2 linked regions of the Homo sapiens genome follow. The protein of the gene in region 2 purifies or fractionates together with the protein of the main gene of each other region. This does not show direct contact. Each region holds a gene or a part of one and is shown on either strand. Other genes may lie near its edges.

Region 1 (3,826 bases), on a different chromosome or scaffold from region 2:
GCACTGGCTCTGGATGAAAGGAAATTAGGAGATGTTTCTCCCACACAAATAGATGTCAGTCAGTTTGGATCTTTTAAAGAAGACACTAAGATGTCCATTTCTGAAGGTACTGTCTCAGACAAGTCAGCTACTCCTGTTGATGAGGGCGTAGCAGAAGACACGTACTCTCATATGGAGGGTGTGGCCTCAGTGTCCACAGCCTCAGTGGCTACGAGCTCATTTCCAGAGCCAACAACAGATGATGTGTCTCCATCTCTGCATGCTGAGGTTGGCTCCCCACATTCCACAGAAGTAGATGACTCCCTTTCAGTGTCTGTTGTGCAAACACCTACCACATTCCAGGAAACAGAAATGTCTCCATCTAAAGAAGAATGCCCAAGACCGATGTCAATTTCTCCACCAGATTTCTCCCCTAAAACTGCAAAGTCCAGGACACCCGTTCAAGATCACAGATCTGAACAGTCCTCAATGTCTATTGAATTTGGCCAAGAATCTCCTGAGCAATCCCTTGCTATGGACTTCAGTCGACAGTCTCCAGATCACCCTACAGTGGGTGCAGGCGTGCTTCACATCACTGAAAATGGGCCAACTGAAGTGGACTACAGTCCTTCTGACATGCAGGACTCCAGTTTATCACATAAGATACCACCTATGGAGGAGCCGTCCTACACCCAAGATAATGATCTTTCTGAGCTCATCTCAGTATCTCAGGTAGAGGCCTCCCCGTCCACCTCTTCTGCTCATACCCCTTCTCAGATCGCTTCTCCTCTCCAAGAAGATACTCTATCCGATGTTGCTCCTCCCAGAGATATGTCCTTATATGCCTCACTCACCTCTGAAAAAGTGCAAAGTCTGGAAGGAGAGAAGCTCTCTCCAAAATCTGATATCTCTCCACTCACCCCACGAGAGTCCTCTCCTTTATATTCACCTACTTTTTCAGATTCTACCTCTGCAGTCAAAGAGAAAACAGCAACTTGCCACAGTTCCTCTTCTCCACCAATAGATGCAGCATCCGCAGAGCCCTATGGCTTCCGTGCCTCAGTGTTATTCGATACAATGCAACACCATCTAGCCTTGAATAGAGATTTGTCCACACCTGGCCTGGAGAAGGACAGTGGAGGGAAGACACCTGGTGACTTTAGCTATGCCTATCAAAAGCCTGAGGAAACAACCAGGTCCCCAGATGAAGAAGATTATGACTATGAGTCTTATGAGAAGACCACCCGGACCTCAGATGTGGGTGGCTATTACTATGAGAAGATAGAGAGAACCACAAAATCTCCAAGTGACAGTGGCTACTCCTATGAGACCATTGGGAAAACTACCAAGACCCCTGAAGATGGTGACTATTCCTATGAAATTATTGAGAAGACCACACGGACCCCTGAAGAGGGTGGGTACTCATATGACATAAGTGAAAAGACCACCAGCCCCCCCGAAGTGAGTGGTTACAGCTATGAAAAGACTGAGAGGTCTAGAAGGCTTCTGGATGACATCAGCAATGGCTATGATGACTCTGAGGATGGTGGCCACACACTTGGGGACCCCAGCTACTCTTATGAAACCACTGAGAAAATTACCAGTTTCCCTGAGTCTGAAGGTTATTCCTATGAGACATCTACAAAGACAACACGAACCCCTGATACTTCCACATACTGTTACGAGACTGCAGAGAAAATCACTAGAACCCCTCAGGCATCCACATATTCCTACGAGACTTCAGACCTATGCTACACTGCAGAAAAGAAGTCCCCCTCAGAAGCCCGTCAGGATGTCGATTTATGCCTCGTGTCCTCTTGTGAATACAAGCACCCCAAGACAGAGCTTTCACCCTCTTTCATTAATCCCAATCCTCTTGAGTGGTTTGCCAGTGAAGAACCCACTGAAGAATCTGAAAAGCCCCTCACTCAATCAGGGGGAGCCCCACCGCCTCCAGGAGGAAAGCAACAGGGCCGACAGTGTGATGAAACCCCTCCCACCTCAGTCAGCGAGTCAGCCCCATCCCAGACCGACTCTGATGTTCCCCCGGAGACTGAAGAGTGCCCCTCCATCACGGCCGATGCCAATATCGACTCTGAAGACGAGTCGGAAACCATCCCCACAGACAAAACTGTCACGTACAAACACATGGACCCACCTCCAGCTCCCGTGCAAGACCGCAGCCCTTCGCCACGCCACCCTGATGTGTCCATGGTGGACCCAGAGGCCTTGGCCATTGAGCAGAACCTGGGCAAAGCTCTAAAGAAAGATCTGAAAGAGAAGACCAAAACCAAAAAGCCAGGTACAAAGACCAAGTCATCTTCACCTGTCAAAAAGAGTGATGGGAAGTCTAAGCCCTTGGCAGCTTCACCAAAACCAGCGGGCTTGAAAGAATCCTCGGATAAAGTGTCCAGGGTGGCTTCTCCTAAGAAGAAAGAATCTGTGGAAAAGGCAGCAAAACCCACCACCACTCCTGAGGTCAAAGCTGCACGTGGGGAAGAGAAAGACAAGGAGACCAAGAATGCTGCCAATGCCTCTGCATCCAAGTCGGCCAAGACCGCCACTGCAGGTAGGTTGAGAAGGCTGGGCATTGGATATATGTCACAACCATTCTACTTGCGTTTACAGCCTTTATATTTCCCTGTTTGGCTTTGTACTGGGAAGATGAGGGAGCACAATTGATGCTTTACCTTCCCTGTACTCTTCTCCTCTGCCCAAAGGTATATATCTCAGTCCAGTGTGGCCTTAAGGCTTGGAAATAGCTCAGTGTATGGTTCAAAGCAGCTGTGATTCATCACTGGGATTCCTGATTTTGTGCCGTTTTCGAACACAGCAACTACAGCCCTGTTCTAAATCTTCAGAACCAAGGATGTGTCTTTCAGGTGCTTCTGGAAGACTGGTTTCAGCCATACTGGCCTCAGAATCCAGCAGGGTAACACAGGCCAGGAGCTCCCAAAGGCCTAAGGAGAACCAGAGGTTTCACATCAAGACTGGATCAACCAGTCTAGACCCAAGATTTAGAGTCCTTTTTTAAAAAAAATTTTTTTTAAATTAAAAATGTTTACATTTTTATTTAAAACATCACCAGGTTGGAGATAAATCCTCATTAAAGGCAGTGTTCCATTTTCTTATCAGCCAAAAAATACTATAATTTCAGTTGACCAGTGAGTGTCCGGTGAAAATTGAGAGAAAAACATTGATGGCTCTGCTCTTACCCTTCTCTTACCCCATGGCCTCATTAGTAGAGACTCAATGCTATTTCAGATTAAAATTCCACTGGGAAGCTAGATGCATGGCCTCATGCCTGTAATTTCAGCACTTTGGGAGGCTGAGATGGAAGGTTAGCTTCAGCCCAGGAAGTTGAGACCAGCCTGTGCAACATAGCAAGACCCTGTCTCCACAAAAAAAAAAAAATGTTTTTTAATTAGCTGGGTGTGGTGGCACGTGCTTATAGTCTTAGCTACTTGGGAGGCTGAGGCAGGAGGATCACTTCAGCCCAAGAGATCAAGGCTGCAGTGAGCCAGAATTGTATGTATCACTGCATGCCAAGCCTGGGTGACAGAGCAAGACCCTGTCTCTCAAAAATAAATAAATAAGCAAATGAAATGCCACTTGGCAAGAGCAGGTATCCCTGATTTTTGATCATTCATGTTTTTGGTCATGATTCTCAGATTTATCAGGTTCTCAGCAATGACCTGGGCTTTTGATGGAACTGGTCTATGGCAGTACTGCTTCATTTTGTTGCTTCACATCAATCACAAGGATTGGCATTCATACATTTTATTTGCTTTAGGTAATTATTCAGAGATTTTTAGATCACAATTCACAAAGTAATGTAAATGGACCC
Region 2 (3,826 bases):
ATGGTGCTATCTTGGCTCACTGCAACCTCCGCCTCTCTGGTTCAGGCAATTATCGTGCCTCAGCCTCCCAAGCAGCTGGGATTACAGGTGTGAGCCACCACACCAGGCTAATTTTTTTTTTTTTTTTTTTTTTAGTAGAGACACGGTTTTGCCATGTTGACCAGGCTGGTGATTTGCCTCAAGTGATCGGCCCACCTCAGCCTCCCAAAATGCTGGGATTACAAGCATAAGCCAAGGTGCCCAGCATTTTTTTCTCTCCTTTTTTTTTTTAAATTTAAGAGATGAGGTCTTGCTCTGTAGCCCAGGCTGGAATGCAGTGGTGCAATCATAGCTTCATTGCAGCCTCAAACTCCTGGGCTTAAGTGATCCTCCCACTTTAACCTCCCAAATAACCGGGATTACAGGCATTAAGCCACTGCACCCAGCTCTAATTATAATATTTTAATAATTTACACAATTACATGCCAAAGTAGAATATCCTGAAACATGAACACATACTTCATATTCTGAATTTAGCACTTCCATTTTAATTACACTTTACTTTCTTACCGGTTCGGAAGTGAGATGTTGATTTGTGATCTCCTATAACAAGACGACCAGTATGTTCTTTCTATAAGAAGGTTGAAAATGTATTAGCATTTGAGACCACTAATTTAACCTTATTGGGTATCTACTATGTGCTGAAAACTATTCTAGGCTTCTGGGACACAGTGAAGACAAAAGATTAAATTAGAATCTCTGCCTTTAAGGACCTTACATTCTAGCAAGGGTAGGAATGGGGAAGGGAGACAGGCAAACGTAATCACTATTTATACTATGTTAGAAAGTACTAAGTGTGATTAAAACAAAACAGACCTGAGTAAGGAGTAGAGCAGGTTGGAATTTTAAATAAGATGAATAGATAACTAGAAAATTGAGTCAATCTAAACATTTTCTTTCCTAAAGGCCAGTTAAATGAGTTGCTTTAACTTCCCACCTGCTCTTTCTGCTGCCTCAAGTATATCTCATGGAGAGAAAGCAAATGAGATTTAGCCTGACAAAAATGAAATAATTGAAACTTATAATGTATCATATAAAGTGATAGATCTTATTACAGTATATCACAATCATTAGCTATCTCTTTACTATTTGACAATAAACTACTAATCTCAACTTGTCAAAAAGAACAATTTAAAACAATCCTGTACTCTAAACATAAAAATACATATGATTCAATATTACCAACTGATTAAACTGCATAATTACTCTCAATTTAATCAGTCCAATCCACTCTTTATGGTTCATATTTAGTTTCATAAGTGCTCATTAAAACACCATGTGAAGGTGAGAATAAATGTGACTTTGGAAAGCAATCTTAACCAATCATCTGTGAAGATACAGTAACAAACCTTCCTATTGTGAAAAAATGGCAGATACAGTCTCCATACACAAAAATGATACTACCGAAAAACTTCAAGTGTTAATGCTCATTGCTTTATGTGCCATTAACACATAAGCAAATCAATAATTCAGTGTGTTACTAGTTTAGGTTGCAAAACTGACAGCCATTAACAAGATTTTAATATAACAGCATCAAGTTATTCCAGGATGATGACAGTATTGCACTGATCTATTCATATGTTCTTAGCTGGTTCTTCCTGTGACCAATAAAATATTCATGATAGCCGGCTAGGATTACAAATATACTTTGTGGCCACAAAATGGAATACCTCTAAACACCCCATATGAAGATCAAAGCTACAATCTTGGCCTCACAAAGAATTTAATCTATGGGCCAGGCGCAGTGGCTCATGCCTGTAATCCCAGCACTTTGGGAGGCAAAGGAGGGTGGATCACGAGGTCAGGAGTTCAAACGGTGAAGCCCTGACTCTACTAAAAATACAAAAATTAGCCAGTCATGGTGGCAGGTGCCTGTAATCCCAGCTACTTGGGAGGCTGAGGCAGAGAACTGCTTGAACCCGGGAGGCAGAGGTTGCAGTGAGACTGTCTCAAAACAACAACAACAAAAAAAAGAGAATTTAATCTATGCTGAACAACCTATTTACTAGTTAGTCAACTTCCATATATTTTATATTAGGATGTTCTTCCTAAGTACTTGAATAAGTTTCATTCTACTAAGTTGAATATGGCCCCTAAACTAACACTTACCTTACATATCCTTAACAAATCTTTTAAGTCCTCACTTAATTTTCAATGATAGGTTCTTGGAAACTTCGATTTTAACTGATTTTAGTTGAAACAACCTATAATGAAAACAATTTTCCTCCTTATCAGTGTTACAGTGAAACAACTTTATTGTCAGTTTGCCAAAGGTTAGTTTCCAAGAACCACAAGGGATGTTAAGTGAGGACTTAATATATTTGCATGAAACAAGAGAAATTGCAGACTATTTTCTATGACAAATTACAAATTGGGAAATCTCGATTAATGAGATATTATACAAATGCTTTATTTAAATAGGTCTCAGTGTTTTACATGACCTCTTCCTATCCCCAAACCTACTGTTGTAGTCTGGCTAACTCCTTCTCATCCTTTGAGATTCAGATCAATTCTATTTTGGGGAAGCTTTCTTGCACTGCTAAACCAGAGTTAGCTGCCCTCTGTGATTCCACAGCACTATGTGCATGGCTTTCTCACAGCAATTACAATTCTGTATTGCTATTATCTGGTTTCCTCCATTACATAATAGCTTCAAACATGTATTATTGATCTATATGACCACCCAGGATCCAGCACAGTAGTAGGTAGTCTGTAATTGTTGGGAAAATGAATGAATGTATTCCCATGTGCATAACAAAACAAAGAGCAGAATTTCATTTTAATGTGCTTAAAAAAAGAGAAAAAAAGCTTTCCTATTTCTTTTCAATTTAGTTTGTAGGAAGTCTGTTAGGACAATGTTAGGAAAATAAATTTACTTGCTTACAAAAACTAAGTATCTAGAGATCCCTGTATAAACTGCTAGGATAAAGAAAGGTTTTTACAATAGATATTTTCCTGGCACTTGTTTTATATAGTTGACCCTGAACACAGGATTAAACTGTGTGGATCCACTTATACTTGAATATACTTCTGCCTCTGCCACTCCCAGACAGTAAGACAATCCCTCCTTTTCAGCCCACTCAACATGAAAACTATGAAGATGAAGACCTTTATGATAATCCACTTCCAATTAATGAAGAGTCAATTATTTTCTCTTCCTTATAATTTTCTTGATAACATTTCCTTTTCTTTATTGTAAGAATACAGGATATAATACATTTAACACCCAAAATATGTGTTAACTGATAATTATGTTATCAGTAAGACTTCCAGTCAACAGTAGGCTATTAGTAGTTAAGTTGTTGGGGAGTCAAAAGTTATATGCAAACTTCTGACTGCCTGCAGAACCAGCACCCCTAACCCCCACATTGCTCAAGGGTCAACTGTACCTTCTATTAACGTTAACCAAACTGACAGGCATTTCAAAGTATCTTGAACATTTTTAAAATTAAGGTTTTCTTTCCCCCTGGTGTTCTACACATTCAGAGAAACTTCTCTATCTAGTAACAAACTATAGAAATAATCTCTGAAAGTGTAGTCTTAAAATTAAGTTTTTGATAAAGGATATTCCTCTGGTTACTACTTCAAGGGCTGGAGGGAGCTATAAAATATGACAGCCTTTTCACTTTGGCCAGAGGTTCCCACAAGATAACCTACCCAGAAGAAATATATTCTATCAAACCACTGGGCCAACATATGGCAAATCATAAACTTTGACATCTCTTTTCTCCTATACAGCCTCCTTGAACCAAATTTTTCTCTGTACAGTCTTCAAACTATACGGACA

The links.
Region 1: the proteins of C11orf58 (region 2) and MAP1B fractionate together in Homo sapiens (co-fractionation; one large-scale study listed by BioGRID). This does not show direct contact.

The regions. Positions count from the first base shown.
Region 1 is NC_000005.10:72,197,820-72,201,645, forward strand, and holds part of MAP1B (microtubule-associated protein 1B), read left to right. Parts: coding exon 1-2,548; intron 2,549-3,826. UniProt on the Homo sapiens protein: Facilitates tyrosination of alpha-tubulin in neuronal microtubules. Phosphorylated MAP1B is required for proper microtubule dynamics and plays a role in the cytoskeletal changes that accompany neuronal differentiation and neurite extension.
Region 2 is NC_000011.10:16,744,881-16,748,706, reverse strand, and holds part of C11orf58 (small acidic protein), read right to left. Parts: intron 611-3,826; coding exon 550-610; intron 1-549.